Linked DNA regions of Homo sapiens: all the other regions are linked to region 1. Evidence: fine-mapped expression QTL. A gene starts in region 1. Each other region holds a variant in brackets. All regions are shown on one strand. Distances are from middle to middle. Region 1 holds the start of USP33 (ubiquitin specific peptidase 33). Region 2 overlaps ZZZ3 (zinc finger ZZ-type containing 3). Region 3 overlaps MIGA1 (mitoguardin 1).

What was found. PIP is the estimated chance that this variant, and not a neighbour inherited with it, causes the effect.
Region 2: its variant is fine-mapped to the expression of USP33 in neutrophils (BLUEPRINT, PIP 0.91).
Region 3: its variant is fine-mapped to the expression of USP33 in whole blood (INTERVAL, PIP above 0.99).

Annotation. Positions count from the first base shown.
Region 1 is chr1:77,754,986-77,763,061 of GRCh38, forward strand. It overlaps USP33 (ubiquitin specific peptidase 33), which reads right to left and starts at 4,867. Exons shown (of 24, transcript NM_201624.3): 1 at 4,658-4,867. RefSeq lists an enhancer at 1,414-1,463 and a silencer at 4,777-5,056.
Region 2 is chr1:77,654,458-77,662,699 of GRCh38, forward strand. All of the region lies in intron 1 of ZZZ3 (zinc finger ZZ-type containing 3), which reads right to left. Among named protein-coding and RNA genes, the nearest start is that of ZZZ3, 24 kb to the right of the region's middle. RefSeq lists an enhancer at 7,647-8,146. The variant CA/C (reference allele first, on the strand shown) is at 3,721.
Region 3 is chr1:77,786,914-77,795,155 of GRCh38, forward strand. The region is part of intron 2 of MIGA1 (mitoguardin 1); the gene reads left to right. Among named protein-coding and RNA genes, the nearest start is that of MIGA1, 11 kb to the left of the region's middle. The variant GTT/G (reference allele first, on the strand shown) is at 4,646.

The sequences.
Region 1 (8,076 bases):
TAGCCTTATCTCGTTGAAATAATTTTGAGAAATATTGGAAGAGAGAGGAAATAGAAATGAATTAATGAATATGACAGAGTTCTAACAGAGTCTCAAATAAGCTGATGATAATTTTCACTCTAAGTCTCACTTTTGAGCAAGATGAAGAGTTAATATACTGGCATTACGGAACAGTCATTAAAAATATTCATGTAAACCACATAGAAACATGGAAAAACCTAAATCTTCAGTTCAGCTTGTGAGCAAAAAGAAAAAAGAAAGAAAGAATATGAGAAAACAAATGCTATCACCATATTCAAATGAGAACCACCATAAGAAAAATTATCAATTCTTTTATTGTTTACCAGACTATAATATTGATTTTAAAACTAATCAAAACTGATTCATCTAAACACAGTAATGCTTCCATAAAAAATATAAGAAATTCCAGCCAGACATGGCAGCTCATGCCTGTAATCCCAGCACTTTGGGAATCCAAGGTGGGAGGGTCACTTGAGGTCAGGAGTTTGAGACCAGCCTGGCCAACATGGTGAAACCCCCATTTCTACCAAAAAATACAAAAATTAGCTGGGTATGGTGGCGTGCGCCTGTAATCTCAGCTACTCCAGAGGCTGAGTGGTGAGAACTGCTTGAACGCAGGAGGTGGAGGTTGCAGTGAGCCAAGATCGCACCACTGCACGCCAGGCTGGGCAAGAGTGAGACCCTTTCACAAAAAAGTAAAATATATAAGAAATTCCTCTTCTAGGATTTTATAAAAGTTAAAACCTGTGGGAAATGGTCTTATTTTAGGTCACATTCAGCCCTATAGTTTCACCACATTACTGTATTTCAGGACTGTGATAAGCCCTGGGGGATAGAAATTAATTTAACAAATGCTTATAATCCAGCATGGGCCAGACATTATAAGTTTGTGGGGATGGCAGCATTGTTCAAGTCTCCACCCTGCTTTCCTTTTGAATGACTGGTCATCAACACTCTTATCATCACTCTCCTGAATACTATGCAATTTTTTCACTTTCCTTAAAAAACTAATTTGAAAGTCAGTGTCCTTCTGTCAACCCTTCTTTTTCACAAGTTAACTAACTTTTAAACCTCAGTACCATCTTAGATCCCTCCTTACTTTTTTCATTTACTTTTTTTGAAATGGGAGGCTCTCTATATTGCCCAGGTTGGACTTGAACTTCTGGGCTCAAGCAAATCTCCTGTTTCAGCCTCCCAAGTGACTGAGACTACAGGCTCAAGCCACAGCACCTGGCTCCCCTCCTCACTTTCTATCAGTTTCTAAATTCGGCATTTTTTTTTTTAACCACATTTCATCTCACATTTCTTCTAGGTCTCTATCTAAATTGAGGCTTTTATTTCACATCTGGATTATTCAATGAGAATGCCTGTTAAGACACAGAGTTGATACCTGGACCATCTCCTTTCAGCTCACTTCAATGTTTACTTGTAGCTGGTATGCACAGTTAACACACTGACAACTTCCCATCTCAACTACTTCTCTCCTCAGCTCTCCAGCACCTCAGGAGCTTGCCAAGCCCTACCTAACCAGTGTACCTGGGAAGTTCTGGGAGCCTTTTAGATAAAGGCAATCTTTATCAGTGAGGATTGACTGTAGATGGAAAACCACCCAGCTCCCCTTCATTTGGGGCAGTTATACAAAACTCTGAGGCAGTTATACAAAAATCTCCAAAGGCTTAAGCAGCCTCCAGTTGGCCTTCCACTATTAACCTTTTTTCCTCCTTCTCTGATTCTACCTGCTTCCTCACTTGTGCTTTATAGCATCTCACCTGCACCCATGTCATCTCAGGTCCAAGTTCAAGATGCACTTCAGAGAAACCATAAGGGCTACAAAAATAATGGTCACAATCTAGCTTAACATAAAGCCACCCCAGCAGTCTTCCAGTCTCAATCTTCTAACAGTTACAGCTCATTTTCCTTTCATGTGGATCACATACCTCTTCTGATCAAACACCTTCAGTGAAGTCTTTCATAATTTGTCTTCTTTATCTATTATTAACTTACATAAACTATGAATATCAGCCACATTGTTCTACCGATGTTTTCTCAAATGTAAGTTGTACCCTTCAAGGAGCTCATTAATCTGTTCACATTACAAATATCCTCCAATATTTACCTTTCAAAGCTCACTCATCTCAAATACTACCTTCACCAAGCCCCAATCACAAGTAATGTCTACCTCACCTAAATTCCTAAGGAACTTTTATAAAAACTCATAAGGCATTTACTGTTGTGTAAAAAATTGCCTCACTTGACTACAAGTTCTTTGAAGGCAGAAACCACGTTTCATTCTTTTTGTTTTCCAAAGGGCCTTGTCCTGGTAGACTCAAAATATTGACCTAACTTAACCTTCTGAACATTTGACAGCATGATTTATTTTGATATACATATTGTTTCTTAAAGACTAGTTCTCAGTATACAATATAGCACATAATTCATGTGCCTTTTTATAGATAGTTAAAAGCAACTGTACTCATCTCACACTCTTTGGAGTTTTCCCACTTATCAAAATGTTCCTGCAGACACATGTACACTTTTAAAGTTTAAAAACTACACTAAATAGAGCTGTTACTTATTCCCTTCCTTTTTAGAAATGGTTACATTTCACATTTCTCACCAAAAATCTTTCAGCATTTTATGTACTTCATTTTCTTGTGAAGAGTCCACAGTCTTGTCATATGTTATAGTTCACAGTGCTCCAATCTTAATCTATCTGAATTCCCAATCTGTATCAAAAGCTGCTTTGGCAACATTATTTCAGGCTTTACGAAATTCTGATCCTTACACAATCTTGAAATGTTTCTGTCATGGGGAAAGACTTTATTTCTTGGCATTCGGAGCTCAGAGGACTGGCATGAGGATCAAGTAAGACTGTGTAAGTGAAAGGTCACAGAAAATTCTAATACTACTACATAAATGTAAGAATTATCATCTCAATTCTGAATTTCAAATATTTAAAATCACCTATTTACTACAATCTAATGTCATTAAACTGCAGTTATATAAAAAGACTTGCTTACTGTTAAGTTATAAAAAGTTCAGAAAAGACAGAAAAAAAGTGAAACTGGCCATAAACCAGATCATAAATAGGAAGCAATCTTAAGTAGACTATCCCTCTTGCACATATCAGGTCAAATATTTTATTCCAATAATATTTTTTGTACTGTCCTTTTTTTTTTTTTTTTTTTTTTTGAGACAGAGTCTCGCTCTGCTGCCCAGGCTGGAGTGCAGTGGCATGATCTCGGCTCATTGCAAGCTCTGCCTCCCGGATTCACGCCATTCTCCTGCCTCAGCCTCCCAAGTAGCTGGGACTACAGGCACCTGCCACCATGCCCGGCTAATTTTTTGTAATTTTTAGTACAGACGGGGTTTCACCGTATTACCCAGGATGGTCTCGATCTCCTGACCTCGTGATCGTCGGCCTCCCAGAGTGCTGGGATTACAGGCGTGAGCCACCGTGCCCAGCCCTGACCTTTCTTTCAATCCTGCCAAAGTAATGAAATAATACAAAGCTCCTAGCATTGTGTAACTATTTCTATTATTTTTTCATAAAACTAGCATTGTCTTTAAGATTCCTATTTTCTCTCTTATTTATAATAGTATGAATTCACTAACAATATTTGTATTATGCTCAAATCAAATAGCCTATGACGATAATGTGACTTGGTCAGACCTTTCCAAATAAGACAGTAGGAAAAACGGAACTAGGACGGCCTTGTTACTTTTTGTAACACGTTTTTCTTAAAGGAAAAATAATCTGATTAAACTTAAAAATTCTCTACATCCACATAGTTATTAAGCAAAAGGCCTAGAGATCGTTACGGTAAAATTCACCTTCAATTTAAGTCTATGCTCCTGCCAGAATTTCACCCTCTGGCTCAATTTTCCAGGCCTAATACTGATTCTATGAGAATGTAAACTCCAACGGTACTTGAGTGCAAAACACCCAGGAAAATCTCATCGTCCAAGAGCTCAACGTAAAACCCTGTAAATATTCAAATGAAGAGCGTTTTGTATACGAGAAATATAAGTAAAGGTCTGGGAAACCACACACTATGGATCTTTCATCCAAACAAAGGCTGCAGATGGACAGAAGGTAAGGGGTAACCTCTCAGTCAAGATCAAACATTGGTCGAAGAAAAATTCCAGGGACGATGACACCTCGGTTTTTCCGTTCACAACAACAAACAACGGGGCCGGCCCCCTCAACAGCGCCGAAAAGCGAAACCAGAACCCAGGAGCCGGCGCGCTGCAGGGCTTTCAGTCACCCACTGAGAGGGACTGGCAAGCCTGAGTGGGGAGACCGAGGAAGGGAGCAGAGCCCCCGCTTCTCGGGCTCACCTGCACCTCCCGCTTCCAGGGAAGAACCCCTGAGGACCCTTCCTCAAATCAACGACCGGTTCCCATCCTCCACCGACCGTTGACAGGGCGACCACTAGATTATCTCTGCAACGCAGAGCACCGAGGGGCCAAGGCCTTCTTCCCGCCCGCGAACCCGCCGCCACCCAGGACCAAGAAAAAGAGGCTGCTGCAGCGGCCGCAACCCCAGCGCGCGGAAGCGAGAACAGAGACCGGACCCCGGACGCGAGCGAAACGCCCTTGGGCCCCGCGCCCCTCCCAGCAGCGCCGCGCTCACCTCCACGGCCTGGCCCGCGGGACCCGCCAGCTCGACCAACAACGGCCTGCAGCCGCACCTCCGCAAGCTCCTCTTTTCCTTCTCAGCTCTCGGAGAGGGGCAGTGTCGCGTCAGGAGGGCCGGAAAACGGCCCCGCAGCGCTGCCCTCGGGGGGTCCGCCTCCTGAACTGGCCACTTCCCGCAGCAGCCGCGGCTCCTTCCGGTGTCTCCGGGGCCGCCGCAGGCGTCTCCGGCGATAGGGGAGGTGGGGGCGGAGCCTCGATGGGAGCCCGCCCCAGGGGCGGGGCCACGGGAGCCAGGCCCAGGTGCGGGGACCCAGGCCGGCTCCCTACTCTGACTGCAAACTAACTGTACAGGGTATGTGCAGCAGTTTGAGGCTGTGAGCTTTTTTTTTTTCGTTTTTCACATGTTTTCTCCTTCTCTTTCACAGTCACACACTACGACCATTATAAGGTCTTGTCTCGATGCATTACAAAAACTGCATTAAGGCTGGCCACTGAAGGGCCTCAGGTTTCCAAACTTGAGCAAAGAAATATTAGACTTAACTTATCCCAATTCAACATTGTATTTCCTCCTTTCATCTTTCTTCCCCCAACTTCTTAGGACCTAGATTCTCTGAAAGCAATTATGTTTCCCTTTTCCACCTATGCAAAGAAGAAATTTATCTCACCATTTTCTCCTTAGGCTAAAATCAAGAGGATCAAATCAAATATTTATTGAAACCTTAGTATCTGCTTAATGCCTGGAGCATGGAAGGAGTCCTGCCTTCTAATTATGTAACTGTTAAAATGCACTCGATTGAGGTTCAAATCTATGAATAAAAAAGGTTATATTAATAAAAAATTGTTAAAATTGCCAGTTTCAATCTGTCTCATGACATCTGACTTTTTGGTCTCCAAAATGGGAGCATGTACCAAAGTATCATGCAAGATGCTCAGTCTCCATTGGAATAGGTAGAAAATATAAAAGCTTCTACTTATTTTTATGGTAAAAATGAAATAAATTAACCATGATACAAAATTCTAGGTAGGGATTGACACTCAGGCCTCAATTTGCACCACAAATGATTGCCTATCCTCGGTTCACTGAGGAGAATAGAAATTTCACAGAATAGAAGTTTCACAGGCAGGCGCCATGGTTCATGCCTGTAATCCCAGCACTTTGGGAGGCCGAGGCGGGTGAATCACTTGAGTTCGAGACTAGCCTGGGCAACATGGCGAAACCCCATTTCTACTAAAAATACAAAAATTCGCCAGGCATGGTGACAGGCACCTGTAGTCCCAGCTACTCAAGAGGCTAAGAGTGGAGGATCACTTGAGACCAGGAGTTTGAGGTTGCAGTGAGCCATGATTGTGCCACTGCACTTCAGCCTGGGTGACAAAGTGAGATATTCTCTGGGAAAAAAAAAAAAAGATGCCGTTAGGAGATGAAAAGTTGTCTCCAGCCGGGCACAGAGCCTCACACCTGTAATCCCAGCATTTTGGGAGGCCAAGGCGGGTGGATTACCTGAGGTCAGGAGTTCAAGACCAGCCTGACCAACATGGTGAAACCCCCATCTCTACGAAAAATACAAAAATTAGCCAGGTGTGGTGGCGCGTGCCTGTAATCCCAGCCACTCAGGAGGCTGAGGCAGGAGAATTACTTGAACCCAGGAGGCAGAGGTTGCAGTGAGCCAAGATAGAGCCACTGAACTCCAGCCTGGGCAACAGAGGAGGACCCTGTCTCAAAAAAAAAAAAAAAAAAAAAAAAAGCTGTCCACAGAGGAGATCTACAGAAGAAAAAAAAAGAAGAGAGACAGAGAGAGAAGAAAAGTTAGGCCAGCAAATAGAATTTATTTGAAATACATATAATTGAAAAGGGGCTCAACTCCATATGTATTTCCAGAAATCAATTTTTAAAAAAACAGGCGACCAAATAGAAAAATAGACAAAAGTCACTTCCCCAGAAATTCTTCTATTGAAAATGTATCAGGGGTATTCTGTTCTTACAGTGTCCTAGCAAATTCAATTCAGCCTCCAAGTCCCACCACCATCCTGCTTAGTAACCAAGGTTCTCTCTGGGCTTACCTGTCCTGGAGGAGTTCTAGGGCAGTGTCAATGCAAGGAAGACAACTGACAAGGCTGTTCAAGATCACCAGGTGCGGTGGCTCATGCCTGTAATCCCAGCACTTTGGGAGGCCCAGCAGGGCAGATCACCTGAGATCGGGAGTTTGAGACTAGTGCGTAGATAATAGTAGGCAAGTACTTCTCAGGTGGACACCAAGTGAAGTCCTTGCAGTGGACAAGTTCTCACAAAACAAACTCACTCTGATAGAATATAATGTAATACCTCTCCCACTTTTAACTTCCGTGAATTCCTGCCTCCCACCCTTGGGTGTTTATCCTTTCATCCCACAGTCCAGATTGCTTATCTTTTACTTTTCTTCAAACAATATCTCCTGATGGCTTATAATGGCTTATAAGGAAGAACACTATCATTAGGAAATAAATCAATCAACTTCCCCTTGAGAGAATAGATTATACATTCCAAAGTGTGGACACCCAGCTGAGTCACTGATTCTGGAGTAGAATTCTAGAGGGTGTGTGGACACCCAGCTGAGTCATACTGATTCTGGAACAGAATTCTAGAGGTGCCGTTCATGGAGAATATAATGTAAATAGTATGACTTAGAGTTGTGCATCAGGCCAGGTACTGAAGTCTCTTCTAATGAAAGGGAGAAAAAAGAAGAAATGAAGAGTAGGAAGAAAAAGAAGAAAAGAAGTCTCTTCTAATGAAAGGGAGAAAAAAGAAGAAATGAAGAGTAGGAAGAAAAAGAAGAAAAGAAGGAGAGATACAAACAGGGAGGGAGGAAGACAATTGAATGGTCCTATCAAAAACAAATACCTTCTCATTTTTGTAACTGAGTAATGGCAAGTAAAAAATAGCAACGTAGAAAATATACATTTTGGTGCTTATGTACCTGAGACTAAATAAAGCTTTGTAAATGCTGTTTCCTTAGAGACAATTTTACAGATACTCCCAACCTCTATCCTTCCTTCACCTGGCTAACTCCTACCTAGATATTCTCTGTTTAATACAGAACTCTTTACCCCATTATTTCCGGTTTCAGCATCCTGCTTGCTTCCTTTAGAGAATGTATTATAATTTGTAATTATCTTAAATTTTTTGGTATACTTAATTTTTTGCCTGTCTCTCCTGAACTCCTCAATGGGAGCAGTGAGTATTTATCTTATTCACAATATTCCCAGAGCCTAGCATTGAAGGACTCAAAAACTTGTTGGCACTCAACTGGGGGTGGTTTTGTCCCCTGAGTGGATAGTTGGCAATATTTCTGAAGAGGATTGGTGGGAGAAAGAATTAGTAACATTCCTTTGCATTGATATTACAAGAGAGTCCCAGACATCATTAATGCCACTATT
Region 2 (8,242 bases), 100 kb before region 1:
AGATGTAAAACTCCAAACAACTTTTTAACAAACCAAATATAATAATATTTTTAAAATAATACACCATGACCAAATGATGTTTATCCCCAAAATGTAAGACTGGCTTACATGTACATAAGGTTGGTTCAATGCAATTCACTCTATATTAACAGACTGAAAAAACAAAACCGAAAAGAAAAAATAGGAAATAAACATAACTGGCCCTTTTGACATCAGGCCTTACATATTGCCTTATGTTTGGTACCCACGCCTCTCCATAGATAGATGGATATCTTTTCCATCTCTATGAAGCTTACTCCTTTTTCTATGCTTATAACAGAATACCAGAAATTGGGTAATTTGTGGAAAATAAATTTCTTCCTTTCTTTCTTTTTAAATAGAGACAAGTTCTATGTTGCCCAAGCTGGTCTCGAACTCCTGTACTCAAGCAATCCTCCCACCTTTGCCTCCCAAAGTGCTGGGATTACAGGTATAAGCCACCACACCGAGCCAAGAAATTTATTTCTTACTGTTACAGGGGCTGAGAAGTCCAAAGTCAAGGAATTGTCTCTGGTGAGAGCCTTCTTGCTCATGAGGATTCTCTGAAGAGATTTGAGGTAGCACAGAGCATCACAAGGTGAGAAGGCTGAGCGTGCTAATGTGCTAGCTCAGGTCTCTCTTCTTCTTATAAAGCCACCAGTTCCCCTCCCATGATAACCCATTAATCCATTAACCAATTAACCCATTAATCCATTCATGAGGGCAGAGACTTCATGATCCAATCACGTCTTAAAGGTCCCACCTCTCAATAGTGCCACACTGGGGATTAAGTTTCAACATGAGTTTTGGATGGGACATTCAAACCATAGCATATGATAAGCCAATAAAAGAGTTAATATTTATATAATGTGATCAAGTAAAGGGTTTTTAAGATCAAAATTAATTTTCTTCTAGAATTACCTTTACTTTGATTGGGTTTAGTCAAGTTTAAGCCCCTTCAGCCATGTGAAGACACAGTGAGAAGATGGCCACTTATAAACCAGGAACTGGGCCGTTGCCAACACTTAATCTGCCCTTGGACTTTTCAACCTTCAGAACCATGAGAAATAAATGGCTGTTGTTTATTTGCTACCCAGTCTATGGTTTTCTGTTACAGCTGCCCAAACAGACTAAGACAATAGCTAATGAGACAGACAAACAGACAAGGCAGATAGATAAAACTCTCCTTCAGGTAGCAACAAATAAAGCTGAATTTGTCAGCAGTAGAGCAACAGAAGCAGAGCACTAATATGACATCATTTAAACGTACTGACTTAGCTCAGCCTGAACCAGACAAACACCCTGGACTTTTCAGTTCCAAAAAATCCCTTTGTTGATCTATGACTTAGAAGAAGAAATGAGATGAGAAGGCACCATATATCATTCTTAGGTCCAAACCAGCTTGTTAAATCCTGGAACAGACTAACTTGAAAATGATTATTGGACTAGCAAGACTGATTCATTTCAAGATACATTAGTTTAGCACACACAGTGTACTATGTACTTATCATTAAGACATAATCTCAGCTCTGGACAGCCATTCATCTTCAATGGACATTCATAAATGAAGCATAAATAATTCAGCAAGGCCTAGGTGAAATGCCTGATGTAAAGATCCATCTATATATTTAATTTTTACAAATGTTTCCCTTTCATCAACTTACAGTTTTCCTCACAACAATATATTTTATAGCTGCCTAACTGTATACTGCATTTTGAAAATGCTTACAAAAAATTTTAATTCTTGGCTTGCTTTAAATATTTTTTAAATTTGTCAGTTAAATTTAGGAAAAAAGTCAAAATTTCCATTAATTTTATTTAGTGATACTTATCCTTAAGGATGTTATTTAATGTCAATTTTTTTTAAGGCCAGTGACAGGTAATAAATAAATGACTACTTAATCCTCTCTAAAAGCCATGCTCCATCTGTCTTAAGAATTCTCAATGGTTTCTGTCAACACAACAATCAAAAAGACTAGGAAAAGTCTTAAAAGCAAATAAAATAATCTAAAGGAGACGGATCAAGGTAAAGATTCACAATGAGTTAGGATATTTTACCATTTCTCATGGGACAGAGTCCTCCCTGAAATATCTTTTGATATCAAAGTCAAGGTCTGAATATCAAAATATTGAGACCTTGAATCTTATCAGATATGCACCATTGCTCTAAATTCTTGAATTTGTACTGTCTTCAGAGGGCACAAAAATTTTTACCAGCATATTAACCAACCTCTAAGCTGGACTCTCCGTCACCTCTAAGAATCTACAGGACAGGTAAAGCAGTTCCCAAGCTAGTTTCAGTATTTCAAAATCCCTAAGTGCCATAACAGATCATATATAGTTGATTCTCATAAAGTTGCCATGAGCACTGAATTATCAAATACTCAATACAAGAGAAATTCAGAGTGAAGTTCCTGCTAGCCTCTGACTAAAACATTTTCAACAGCCTAACAACACATATCCTTGTTTTATCTGTACTTTTATTTAAAAACACTTTTATTTCTTTATTTATTTACTTACTTTTCGAGACAGTCTCACTTTGTCGTCCAGGCTGGAGTGCAGCGGTATGATCTCGGCTCACTGAAACCTCCGCCTCCCGGGTTCAAGTGATTCTCATGCCTCAGCCTCCTGAGTAGCTGGGATTACAGGTGTGCACCACCACGCCCAGCTAATTTTTTCTATTTTTAGTAGAGATGGGGTTTCACTGTGTTGGCCAGACTGGTTTCTAACTCCTGGCATCAAGTGATCCACCCACCTCGGCCTCCCAAAGTGCTAGGATTACAGGCGTGAGCCACCGCACCCAGCCTAAAAACACTTTTATATTGCTGATTCATAAACACGGAACTCACAGTCAACAGCACTATAACTTTTCATCACAGCCTTCTTGCACTTAGGAACACTATAGACAGCACTTTAGCACTACACTTAGGGGCAATTTTAAACAGTGAAACCACCTCTAAAAAAAAAAGTGGGAAAGATGTAGCACTAAGTAAATAGACAAGAGAGCTAGAACAAGGCAGCAGAGAGTCATTTTGTTTAACCTCATTTGGAAATGTGTACATCAAGCAACTCAAATTTCACCACTCTGAACATGTCCGCAAATGACTGCGAAAGTGCCAGACATATTGATTTGGGGGTTACAAATAAATTTTAGCCAGTAAATGAGTTCACAAACGTGGAATCCAAGAATAATGAGAACAGACTATAGTCATCCCTCAGTATACGTGGGGGGGATTGGTTCTAGGACCCCAAGTATAGGTATCCAATAAATAATTGTTAAATTATTTAACAAGCATATAGTATCCAATAAATGTTAAATGAATGGACAATTATACAAAATACAATAATTTAGACACATCCACAATATAAAGTACAAATATAGCTTACCCCATTTCAACAACCACTTAACATACTAGTGTAGGTCTGGGTGCGGTGGCTCATGCCTGTAATCCCAGCACTTTAGGAGGCCAAGGTGAGTGGATCACCTGAGGTCAGGAGTTTGAGACCAGTCTGGCCAACATGGCAAAACTCTGTCTCTACTAAAAATACAAAAATTAGCCAGGCTCAGTGGCACACACCTGTAATCCCAGCTACTAGGGAGGCTGAGGCAGGAGAATCGCTTGAATGCAGGAGGCAGAGGTTGCGGCGAGCTGAGATTACGCCACTGCATTCCAGCCTGGGCGACAGAGCGAGACTTTGTCT[CA/C]AAAAAAAAAAAAAAAAAAAAAAACACAACATACTAGTGTATTCTCTTCCATTCTTATTTCAATGTGAATTTTAAAAATCAGAATTCACACAACACACACTTAATTTGGCATCCTGGCATTTATTCCCCACTTAAGCCACATAATTAAGGGCTAAATTGTCTGGGATTTTTTTATTTTTTAGAGACAGGGTCTCACTCTGTCACCCAGGCTGGAATGCAATGGGGAGATCACTGTTCACTGCAGCCTTGATCTCCCGGGCTCAAACGAACCTCCCAGCTTAGCCTCCCAAGTAGCTGGGACCTATAGTCATAGGTGTGTACACTACCACATCCTGGCTTTTTTTTTTTTTCTTCTTCTTCTTTTTAGTAGAGACAAGGTCTCCCTATGTTGCCCAGGCTGATCTCCAACTCCTGGGCTCAAGCGATCCTCCCGCCTTGGCTTCCTAAAATGTTGGGATTACAGGCGTGAGCCACACCGCCCAGCCTAAAATTGTTAATGGCCATATAAAAACTGTATAAATAGTTTATAATTTGACCATTTCCATTCTGTTAGGACATTTAAGCTGCTTCTGATATTATACTATTTATTATTTAAAATGCTGTGATTAACATTCTTGTACACTCTATGTCTGCATTTGATTATTACCTTAAAACAGACTTATTGGGTCACAGCATATAAATGTTTCCATCCTTGAAGGACACTGTCAGGTGGCTTTTAAGATAAAGCTTCATTTGTTAAAAATTCTAAATGCATTTTTAAATGACTATGCAAGAAAGTTCATTAAAATATACTTCTTTGGGAGGCCGAGGCAGGCGGATCACCTGAGGTCAGGAGTTCGAGACCAGCCTGAACAACATGGAGAAACCCCGTCTCTACTAAAAATACAAAATTAGCCGGGCGTAGTGGCACATGCCTGTAATCCCAGCTACTAGGGAGGCTGAGTCAGGAGAACTGCTTGAACCTGGGAGGCGGAGGTTGCGGTGAGCCGAGATCATGCATATATATATAAAATATATATTTCTGAATCATACTTTACATAGAAGACTTAATAGGCTTTACTAATTTGCTATCACTCAATGTAGCTTTAAGTGTTTTAATATTACTAATGAAAGAAAAATGTTTAATTTAGTTTAATTCGATTTATTATCTCATTGAATTTTTCTAATATACTTAATCAATTTTTAAATTTAAAAAACCAGTTGATCCAGGTGTGGTAGCTCACTCCTGTAATCTCAGCACTTTGGGAGGCCAAGATGGGTGAATCACCTGAGGTCAGGAGCTCGAGACCAGCCTGGCCAACATGGTGAAACCCACCTGGCCAACATGGTAAAACCCCATCTCTATTAAAAATACAAAAATTAGCCAGGCGTGGGGGCACGTGCCTGTAATCCTACTCAGGAGGCTGAAGCAGGAGAATCACTTGAATCCGGGAGGTGGAGGTTGCAGTGAGCCGAGATCACGCCACGGCACTCCAGCAGCCTGGGTGACAAAGAGAGACTCCATCTCAAAAAAAAAAAAAAAGAAAAAGAAAGAAAGAAACCAGTTGAATCCTATGTTTTGATTACCCAAAAAAAAAAAAAAGTTCCTTTTAAAGTATTACTAGAGGAGTGAGGATTGGGGGAAGGCAGAGCTCAGTTGTTGTGGTTTTGTTTGTTTGTTTGTTTGTTTTTGAGTCAGGATCTCACTCTTGTCACCCAGGCTAGAGGGCAGTGGCAGGACAATAGCTCACTGCCACCTCAAATTCCTGGGCTCAAGCGATACTCCTGCTTTAGCCTCCCAAGTAGCTAGGACTACAGGGGCTTGCCACCACACCCAGCTATTTTTTAAATTTTTATAGAAACAGGGTCTCACTATGTTGCCCAGGCTGGAGTGGTACTCCTGGCCTCAAGTGATCCTCCAATCTCAACCTCCCAAAGAGCTGGGATTACAGGCATGAGCCACTGTGCCTGGCTGACATTTCATTTTCTAGCAGGTAAAGAAGAGTATGCCTCGTTAGTGAGAGGTAAGTTACTTCTCCCCTCCCCAATATTTTTTTTTATTGTGGTAAAATACACATAACATAAAATTTGTCATCTTAATCATTTTTAAGTGTATGGTTCAGTGTAATCCAATACATTCATAATGCAATCATCACTACCATCCATCTCCAAAACTCCATTTTGTAAAACTGAAACTCTACGCTCCTTAAACATTAACTCCGCATATCCCCCACCTCTAGCCTCTGGCAACTACCTTTCTACTTTCTGTTTCTATGATTTTAACTACTCTAAATACCTCATATATGTGGAAACATACAGTATCTTTTTGTGACTGGCTCATGTCACTTAACATAATGTCCTCAAGGTTCATCCATGTGGCAACATGTCAGAATCTCCTTCCTTTTTAGAGGTAAATAATATTCCCTATGCATATACCACATTTTGCTCATCCATTAATGGACACTTGGGTTGCTTTCACATTTTAACTATTGTGAACAGTGTGGCTATGAACACAGGTGTACAAATCTCTCTTCAAGACCCGGCCTTCAATCCTTTCAGGAATAACCCAGATATGGAATTGCAGAAGGCCACATTACTTCTATCCTATTATTTTAGGCCCCAACTCTCAGACTGCTTCTCTCTACACTTCATACTACCATCATGACCAAATTCAAGCTTTCTACCATTCTGGACTAATTTCTATTTCTTCCAATTATATACAGAAATAGTTGATCTAAAAAGAATCACACATTTATGAACACACAATAAACACAAACACGTATTTTTCATTTATAAATATTTTTCTAGGAAACTTCAAACCCAAATTCCTAATTTACTCTAAGTGCATTTGTTACCCTAATTTGCCATCATTAAATTGAGCTTTAATTGCTTTAACGCAAAAAAAAAAAAAAAAAAATCATTGAATGCCCTTTAGGAAAATCACTCAGAACACCATACAGTTAACAATGGTACAGAGGCCAGGCGCAGTGGCTCATGCCTGTAATCCCAGCACTATGGGAGGCTGAGGTGGGCAGATCATGAGGTCAGACCTCGAGACCAGTCTAGCCAACATAGTGAAACCCCGTCTCTACTAAAAAAACAAAAATTAGCCAGGCAGAGTGTCGGGTAACTGTAATACCTGCTACTTGGAAGGCTGAGGCAGGAGAATCGCTTGAGCCCAGGAGTCCGAGGCTGCAGTGAGCCAAGATCACGCCATTACACTCCAGCCTGGGCAACAAGAGCAAAACTCCAACCAAAACCAAAACAAAAACAAAAACAAAAACAATGGTACAGAAAAACCAAGTAAATTTCCAATGCAATGACTAAAAGGGCCCTCAGAAGTTATTTAGCCTAGAAAACATACCATACTGGCTTTTCTGACACTTAGCTGCCCTAATCACAGAGGAATGATTAAGGGCATTGCAGTTAGATACCTGGTAAAAAATTACAACCTCTCTGAGGAGAGATTAACTACTTTTCTCTTCCATGAAAGAAAAAGGCACACCAATCTTGAATAATTATCATTCCATATCAGATTATGGAATGTCTGGCATAAAGTGGGCACTCAAAATTGCTTTCTTTTTCCAAGTTAGAGGAGTCTCTTAAATCACAAGACACCCCCTTTTCATCTCTTGATTATAGTTTCAAATTGCTAACAAGGAATTTTTTTTGTTTTCCAGACGAGGTCTTGCTCTGTTGCCCAGGCTAGAGTGCAGTGACACGATCATAGCTCACTGCAACCTTGAACTCTTGGGCTCAAGCAATCCTCCCACCTAAATCTCCTGAGTAGCTAGGACTACAGGCACAAGCCATGATGCCTGGCTTTTTTTTTTTTTTTTACTTGGTTTTTCTGTACCATTGTTTTTGTTTCTGTTTTGGATGGAGTTTTGCTCTGTCGCCCAGGCTGGTACAGTGGCGTGATCTAGGCTCACTGCAACCTCTGCCTCCCAGGTTCAAGCGATTCTTATGCCTCAGCCTCCCAAGTAGCTGCGACTACAGGCACACACCACCACACCCGGCTAATTTTTGTACTGTTAGTAGAGACGGGGTCTCACCATATTGGCCAAGCTGGTCTCAAACTCCTGACCTCATGATCTGCCCACCTCAGCCTCTCAAAGTGCTGGGACTACAGGCATGAGCCACCGTACCCAGCCTGGCTTTTTTTTTGTAGAGACAAGTTCTCGCTATGTTGCCCAGACTGGTCTCAAACTCCTGGGCTCAAGGGATCCTCCTCCCCTGGCCTCCCAAAGTGCTGGGATTACAGGCATAAACCAATGCACCTCACCCAACAGGTATTTTTAAACATGAAGCAAAAAAACTTAAGATATCACAAATATGGAAGGGTGGGAAATTTGAACATACCCTGTAGTGACTAGAATTGGAAGTATCAGTGTACTCACCCTGAATCTAACCACAAGAAATTCAAACTGAGGGACACTAAATACCTGGCCTAATCTCTTAAAAAATGTCAAGAAATTTGAGGCCAGGCCGGACATGGTGGCTCAGGCCTGTAATCCCAGCTACTTGGGAGGCTAAAGCAGG
Region 3 (8,242 bases), 32 kb after region 1:
CAATTTACTGTATTAGTCCATTTTCATGCTGCTGATAAAGACATACCTGAGACTGGGCAATTTACAAAAGAAAGCTTTATTGGACTTACAGTTCCATGTAGCTGGGGAGGCCTCACAATCATGGCGGAAGGTGAAAGGCACGTCTCACATGGCAGCCGCAAGAGAGAGTGAGAGCCAAATGAAATGGGTTTCCCCTTATCAAACCATCAGATCTCGTGAGACTTATGCGCTGTCATGAGAACAGCAAGGGAAGGACTTGTCCCCATGATTCAATTACCTGCCACTGGGTCCCTCTCACAACACATGGGAATTCAAGATGAGATTTGGGTGGGGACACAGCCAAACCATATCAAAGGTAGTATATCCTTCTGGTTTTGATTTGTATTTCCCTGATGATGTTGAGCATCTTCTCATGTGCTTATTGACCATTTATATGTATCCTTTGAAGAAATGTATATTTTAGTCCTTTGCCCTTTTTTTTTTTTTTTGTAAGACAGAATCTCACTCTGTTGCATGGGCTGGAATGCAGTGGTGCAATCTCACTGCTCACTGCAGCCTCGGCCTCCTGGGTTCAAGCAATTCTCCCTGCCTTAGCCTCCTGAGTAGCTGAGATTACAGGCGCCTGCCACCATACCTGGCTAATTTTTGTATTTTTAATAGAGTCAGGGTTTTGCCATGCTGGCCAGGCTCGTCTGGAACTCCTGACCTCAGGTGATCTGCCCGCCTCCGCCTCCCAAAGTGTTGGGATTACAGGTGTGAGCCACTTGTGCCTGGCCCCTTTGCCCATTTTTGAAATTGTTTTGTTCTCGTGGAGTTTTAGTTCTCTGTATAGTCTGGATATTAATTCCTTGTTAGTTATATGATTTCCATATATTTCTCCAATTCTGTGAATTACTTTTCTTTTCTTTTTTTTTTTTTTTGAGATGGAGTCTCACTCTGTCACCCAAGCTGGAGTGTAGTGGTGCAGTCTTGGCTCACTGCAACCTCTGCCTCCTGGGTTCAAGCAATTCTCCTGCCTCAGCCTCCCGAGTAGCTGGTATTACAGGTGCCTGCCACCACACCTGGCTAATTTTTGTATTTTTTCTTTTTTTTAGACAGAGTCTCGCTTCTTCACCCAGGTTAGAGTGCAATGGCGCAATCTCGGCTCACTGCAACCTCCGCTCACTGCAACCTCCGCCTCCTGGGTTCAAGCAATTCTTCTGCCTCAGCTTCCCAAGTAGCTGGGATTATAGGCATGTGCCAGCATGCCTGGCTAATTTTTGTATTTTTAATAGAGATGGGGTTTCACCATGTTGGCCAGGCTGGTCTTGAACTCCTGACGTCAAGTGATCCGCCTGCCTTGGCCTCCCAAAGTGCTGGGATTATAGGCATGAGCCAGTGTACCTGGCCTAATTTTTGTATTTTTAGTAGAGACGGGGTTTCACTATGTTGGCTAGGCTGGTCTCGAACTCCTGACCTTAAGCGATCCACCCACCTTGGCCTCCAAAGTGCTGGGATTACAGGCATGAACCACGGTGCCCAACCCTGTGAATTACTTTTTTATTCTGTTGATGGTGTCTTTTGATGCACAAAATTTTAAAATTTTCATCAAGTCTTGTTTGTATCTTTTTTTTGTTGCCTGTGTCTTCATTGTCATATTTAAGAAGTCATTGCCAAATCCGATGTTGTGAAGCTTCTTAGGGTTTTAGGACTTATATTTAGGTCTTTGATCCATTTTGAGTTAATTTTTGTATGTATTATTAGGTAAGGGTCCAGTTTTCCCTATACCATTTGTTGAAAAAACTCTCCATTTCCGACTGAATGGTCTTGCACCCCTGTGGAAAATCATTTGATGATATATGTGAGGTTTTATTTCTGTGCCCTTGATGCCAGTACCTTACTGTTTTGATTACTGTCGCTTTATAGTGAGTTTTGAAATTAGGAAATGTGAGTCCTCCAGCTTTGTTCTTCTTTTTCAAGTTTATTTTGGCTATTCTAAGTCCCTTGAGATTCCGTATGACATTTAGGATGGGTTTTTCTATTTCTGCCAAAAAATCATTGGGATTTTGATAGAGACTGCATTGAATCTGTAGATTGCTTTGGGTAGTATTGACATCTTAACAATGTTAAGTCTTCTAATCTATGAACATGGGATGTGTTTCTGTTTATTCATGTTTTCTTTAATTTCTTTCAGCAACGTGTATATATATATATTTTTAAATTGTAGAAGTCTTTCACATCTTTGGTTAATTCCTAAGTATTGTATTCTTTTGGATAATAATCTAAATGGAATTGTGGGGGGCGGTTGCTTTTTTTTTTTTTTTTTTTTCTTTGAGACGAGGTCTTGCTTTGTTGCCCGGGCTGCAAATCCCGGCAGTAAGTCATGGCTCACTGCAGCTGAATCCTCCCAGGCTCAGGTGATCCTTCCACCTTAGCCTCCCAAGTAGCTTGTACTACAGGAGTGTACCAACACACCCAGCTAATTTTTTTTATTTTTTGTAGAGACAGGGTTTTACCATCTTGCCCAGGCTGGTCTCAAACTCCTGGATTCAAGCGATCCTCCCGTATTGGCCTCCCAAAGTGCTAGGATAATGGGTGTGAGCCACCGTGTTTGGCTTTCTCTCTCTTTCTCTTTTTTTAACCAGATTTTAAAATAACAAGATGGTTCTGTAGTATCCTTCACAGCCAATCAATGAAAGTTTTTTAAAAATCGTTTTGATCTTATGGATTTAATTGTATTTGATGTTTTAAACCATTGCATTTATTTATTCTTATTTATGCTCAAATGATCTCATATTTGGCCAGTGAGAGTCTATTCAGGTTGGTTCCTGAGTGCTCTTGATAAAACCCTCGTAATCCTTGCTATCTAGTATAAAATGGCACAGGCTTATCTTGTACTTTTCCTGCTCCATACCTAGAATCAACCACTTCTTCAAGGACCCCTTTAGTGTAAAATGATAAAGACAACAAACTAGGTACCATGAGTCAATTCAGATTACAGTGAATAGTTGTGAGAAGGAAAACAATCCAATTATAAAACCCTCCCAAAAGTTCTTTGGTTTGAATTATTCTGGATTAGAAACTAGGTTGGTACAGCTTATTTTTAAAAACTTTATTTTGAAATAATTATAGATTCATAGGAAGTTGCAAAAATTATACAGCAAGGCCCAGTGTACCTTTTATCCCATTTCCCCCAATGGTTACATTTTATATGACTATAGTACAATATCACAATCAAGAAATTGACAGTGACAATGTATGTATATAATTCTATGCCAAGCCATTTTATCATATGCATAGATTTATGTAACCACAGCCTCTATCAAGATCCAGAACTCTTCTATCACCTTAAAGATTTACCTCTTGCATCCTCTTTATAATCACACTCACACCTTTCTTTTTTTGTCTCTGTCCTCCAGGCTGGAGCACAGTGACGCAGTCTCAGCTCACTGCAAGCTCCGCCTCCCGGGTTCAAGTGATTCTCCTGCCTCAGTCTCCTGAGTAGCTGGGACTACAGGCTCCCGCCACCACACCCGGCTAATTTTTTGTATTTTTAGTAGAGACGGGGTTTCACCATGTTAGCCAGGATGGTCTTGATCTCCTCACCTCGTGATCTGCCCGCCTCGGCCTCCCAAAGTGCTGGGATTACAGGCATGAACCACTGCGCCCGGCCCCCACCTTTCTTTGCACCATTCCTTTTTTTTTTTTTTGAGACAGAGTTTTGCTCCTGTTGCCCAGGTAGGAGTGCAATGGTGCGATCTTGGCTCACTTGCAACCTCCACATCCCAGGTTCAAGCGATTCTCCTGCCTCAGCCCCATGAGTAGCTGAGATTACAGGTGCCCACCATCATGCCCGGCTAATCTTTTGTATTTTTAGTAGAGATGGGGTTTCACCATGTTGGCCAGGTTCGTCCCAAACTCCTGACCTCAAGTTATCCACCCGCCTCAGCCTCCCAAAGTGCTGGGATTACAGGTGTGAGCCACTGTGCCTGGCCCCTCGCACCATTCCTAATCCCTGGTGAACCCTAATCTGTTTTCCATCTATAGTTTTGTCATTTCAAGACTGCTATATAAGGCTGAGAACAGTGGTTTATTCCTGTAATCCCAGCACTTTGGCTGGCAGGAGGATTGCTTGAGACCAAGAGTTTGAGACCAGCCTAGGCAATATAGTGAGACCTTGTCACTACAAAAATAAAAATAAATATAAGCTGGGCATGGTGGTAGGTGCCTATAGTTCTAGCTGAGGAGGCTGAGAAGAGAGGATCACTTGAGCCCAGAATTTCAAGGATGTATTAAGCTCTGATTGCATTATTGCACTCCAGCCTGGCAACAGAGCAAGACCCTGTCTCTTAAAAAAAAAAAAAAAAAAAAAACAAAAAACTGCTATATAAATGGAGTCACACAGGCTGTTACCTTTTGAAATTGGCCTTTTTTCACTCAGCATAATGCCCTTGAGTTCCAGCAAAGCTGTTGAATGTATTACCAGTTTGTTCCTTTTTATTTTGTACTCCATGGTATGTATGGATGTACCACAATTTGTTAACCATTCATTTACTGAGGGTCATTTAATATTACAAAATAAACCTGCTTTAAACATTTGCTTGTAGGTGTTTGTGTGGACATGTTTTTATTTTTCTGGGATAAATGCTCAGAAGTAGATATTTAA[GTT/G]TTTTTTTTTTTTTTTTTTTTTAAACAGAGTCTTGCTCTGTCACCCAGACTGGAGTGCAGTGGTGTGATCTTGGCTCATTGCAACCTCAGTCTCCTGGGTTCAAGTGGTTCTTGTGCCTCAGCCTCCTGATTTGGTGGGATTACAGGCGCACACCACCATGCCTGGCTAATTTTTGTATTTTTAGTAGAGACAGGGTTTCACCATCTTGGCCAGGCTGGTCTTGAACTCCTGACCTCAAGTGATCTACCTGCCTCAGCCTCCCAAAGTGGTGGGATTACAGGCATGAGCCACTGCGCCTGGCCCAATACTTAGTTTTTAAAGAAATTACAAAATTAATTATTGGCTGTATCATTTTACATTACTACCATCAAAGTATGAGAAGTCTAGTTTTCCCATATTCTCACCAGCATTTGGTATTGTCACTTCAAAATAATTATTTTAGATGTTCTAATATAACTGAACAAAAGTCTGGCTGCTCACTGCTTGAGGACCAAAACATGAGAAAGAAAGAGTGGTGAAAGGAAAGCAACTTTATTGAAATGCTAGCAGTTGGGATAGGCTAGGCTTATGTCTCCAAAAGACCATTTCAAGTGTTAGGCTGAGGGAAGGGGTTTAAAAAGAGGAGACTTGGTATGGGAAACATAAGAGTAACACAGGATGCAGGTTCCTATGTGTTGTTCCAAGGACTATCTCGAATTATTGTCTGCCTGGAGTACAGGCTGGTGCCATTTTATTTGCTGCTGAGTTACAGATTATCAGTTTTGAGGTAATCTCCCTGTAGAGGAGAATTCATTCCACCGCTGGGTCTTTTTGCCTGGGTTGTTGTAGCCCCTGGAATTTCTTAACAAGCATGCAGTTAGGTAAGTGTGCATGGTGCAAGGGAGTGTCTGGTGGGAAAGAGAGGGGAGCAGAGTTCAAAGAAGATTTCAAGGCCATATTTTAAGACTTAGGACACAAAGTTTCTACAGTTTGTTTCAAGGTTACATCTTAAGACTAGAGAAAAAGGATAAAAAAAGTTTTAAAATGCATTTCAAAGCTGAAATACTCAGTTACACTAATAGTTTTGTACTGGTATCTCACTGTGGTCTTAATTTGCATTTCCCAATTGGCTAATGATGTTGAACATCTTCTTGGGTTTGTGTGTGTTTGCCATCTGTATATCATCTTCAATGAAATGAAATGTCTCTTCATGTCCTTTGCCCATTTTCTAAATTGGATTGTTTGCTTTTTTTTTTTTTTTTTTTGAGATGGAGTCTCACCCTTGTAGCCCAGGCTGGAGTGCAGTGGCGCGATCTCAGCTCACTGCAACCTCTGCCTCCCGGGTTCAAGTGATTCTCCTGTCTCAGCCTCCTGAATAGCTGAGATTACAGGCATGCAGCACTATGCCCGGCTAATTTTTTTGTATTTTTAGTAGAGACGGGGTTTTACCACGTTGGCCAGCCTGGTCTTGAACTCCTGACCTTAGGTGATCTGCCCGCCTCAGCCTCCCAAAGTACTGGGATTACAGGCATGAGCCACAGCACCCGGCCTGTTTTTTTTGTTTGTATGTTTTTTGTTTTTTAAAGACAGGGTCTCTCTGTTGCCCGGGCTGGAGTGCAGTGGTGTGATATCGGCTCATTGTAGCCTCAATCTTCTGGGCTCAAGCAATTCTCTCACTTTAGTCTCCTCATTAGCTGTGACGCAGGCATGCACCACCATGCCTGGCTAATTTTTGTATTTTTTGTAGAGACGGGGTCTCACCATGTTGCCCAGGCTGGTCTGGAACTCCTGAGCTCAAGCAGTCTGTCCGCTTTGGCCTCACAAAGTGCTGGGATTATAGGCATGAGCCATGGTGCCCAGCCTATTTGCTTTTTTTACTGTTGAATCCTGAGAGGTTTTTTTTGTTTGTTTGTTTGCTTGTTTGTTTTGTTTTGTTTTGAGAAAGGATTCCCTCTATCATCCAGACTGGAATGCAGTGGCACAATCTTGGCTCGCTGCAACCTCTGCCTCCCAGGCTCAAGTGATTCTCATGCCTCAGCCTCCTGAGTAGCTGGGACTACAGGCATGCGCCACCATGCCCAGCTAATTTTTTTTTTTTTTTGTATTTTTAATAGAGATGGGGTTTCACCATGTTGCCCAGGCTGGTCTACCTGACTTCAAGTGATCTGCCCACCTCAGCCTCCCAAAGTGCTGGGATTACAGGCGTGAACCACTGTGCCTGGCTGCTTTACTAAAATTTTATCTTTTTTTTTTTTTTTTTTTTTGAGACAGGGTCTCACTCTGTCGCCCAGGCTGGAGTGCAGTGGCGTGATCTCAGCTCACTGCAACCTCTACCTCCTGGGTTCAAGCAATTCTCGTGCTTCAGCCTCCCAAGTGGTTGGGATTACAGGTGAGCACCACCGCACCTGGCTAATTTTTTATTATTTTTTGTAGAGGTGGGGTTTCGCCATGTTGGCCAGGCTGGTCTCGAACTCCTGACCTCAAGTGATCTGCCCGCCTCAGCCTCCCAAAGTGTTGGGATTACAGCCATGAGCCACCGCGCCCGGCCTTAAACTTTTATTTTGAAAGAATTTTATTTACCAAAGAGTTGCAAAGATTGTACATAGAATTCTCGTGTATGCTTTGTATTAACATCTTAATATTAATGTCTGTTATAACTCTAATACAACTATCAAAACTAAGATTAACATTGTAATCTTAATTTTGTAAGTAATATTCTTAACTACACTATAGACTTTATTTAGGTTTTATTACTTTTTTCCACCTTATATCCTTCAGGATCTTATCTAGGTTCCCACATTGCATTTAGTTGTCAGGTTTCCTTAGTCTTCTCCAATCTGTGACAGTTCTTTCAGTTTTCCTTGGTTTATATGACCTGCTGCTTTTGAAATATATAGGATAGGTATTTTGCAGAATGTCCCTCAGTTGAGTGTGTCTTATGTTTTCTCAGGGTTGGATTCAAGTTATGCATTTTTGGCAAGATGTCACAATATCAGGGGATACATGATGATGTCTGTGTGCCTTGTTACTGGTGATAGTAGCTTTGATCACTGGTCAGGCATGGTGTCTCATTCCTATAATCCCAGCACTTTGGCATGACAAGGTGGGAGGATTACTTGAACACAGTGATGCATGTCTGTAGTCCCAGCTACTCTGGAGGCTAAAGTGGGAGGATCGCTTGAGCCCTGGAGTTTAAGGCTCTGGTGAGCTGTGATTGCACACTGCACGCTAGCCTGGGCAACAGAGCGAGACCCTGTCTTTTGAAAAAAGGCACACACACACACCCCTTGATCATTTAGTTAAGGATGTGTCTGCCACACTTTTCCACTTTTTCTCCTTTGTAAATAAGAAGTTTGGAGGTAGAGACTTTGACACTGTAAGATATCTTACTTTAGTACTTATTTCTTGATGCTGCCTTCAGGAGTTTTTTGTTTTTTTTTTAAGATGCACCCTTGCTCTGTTGCCCAGGCCGGAGTGCAGTGGCGTGATCTCGGCTCACTGCAATCTCCACCTCCCGGGTTCAAGCAATTCTCCTGTCTCAGCCACCCGAGTAGCTGGGACTACAGGCGCATGCCACCATGCCCAGCTAATTTTTGTATTTTTAGTAAAGATGGG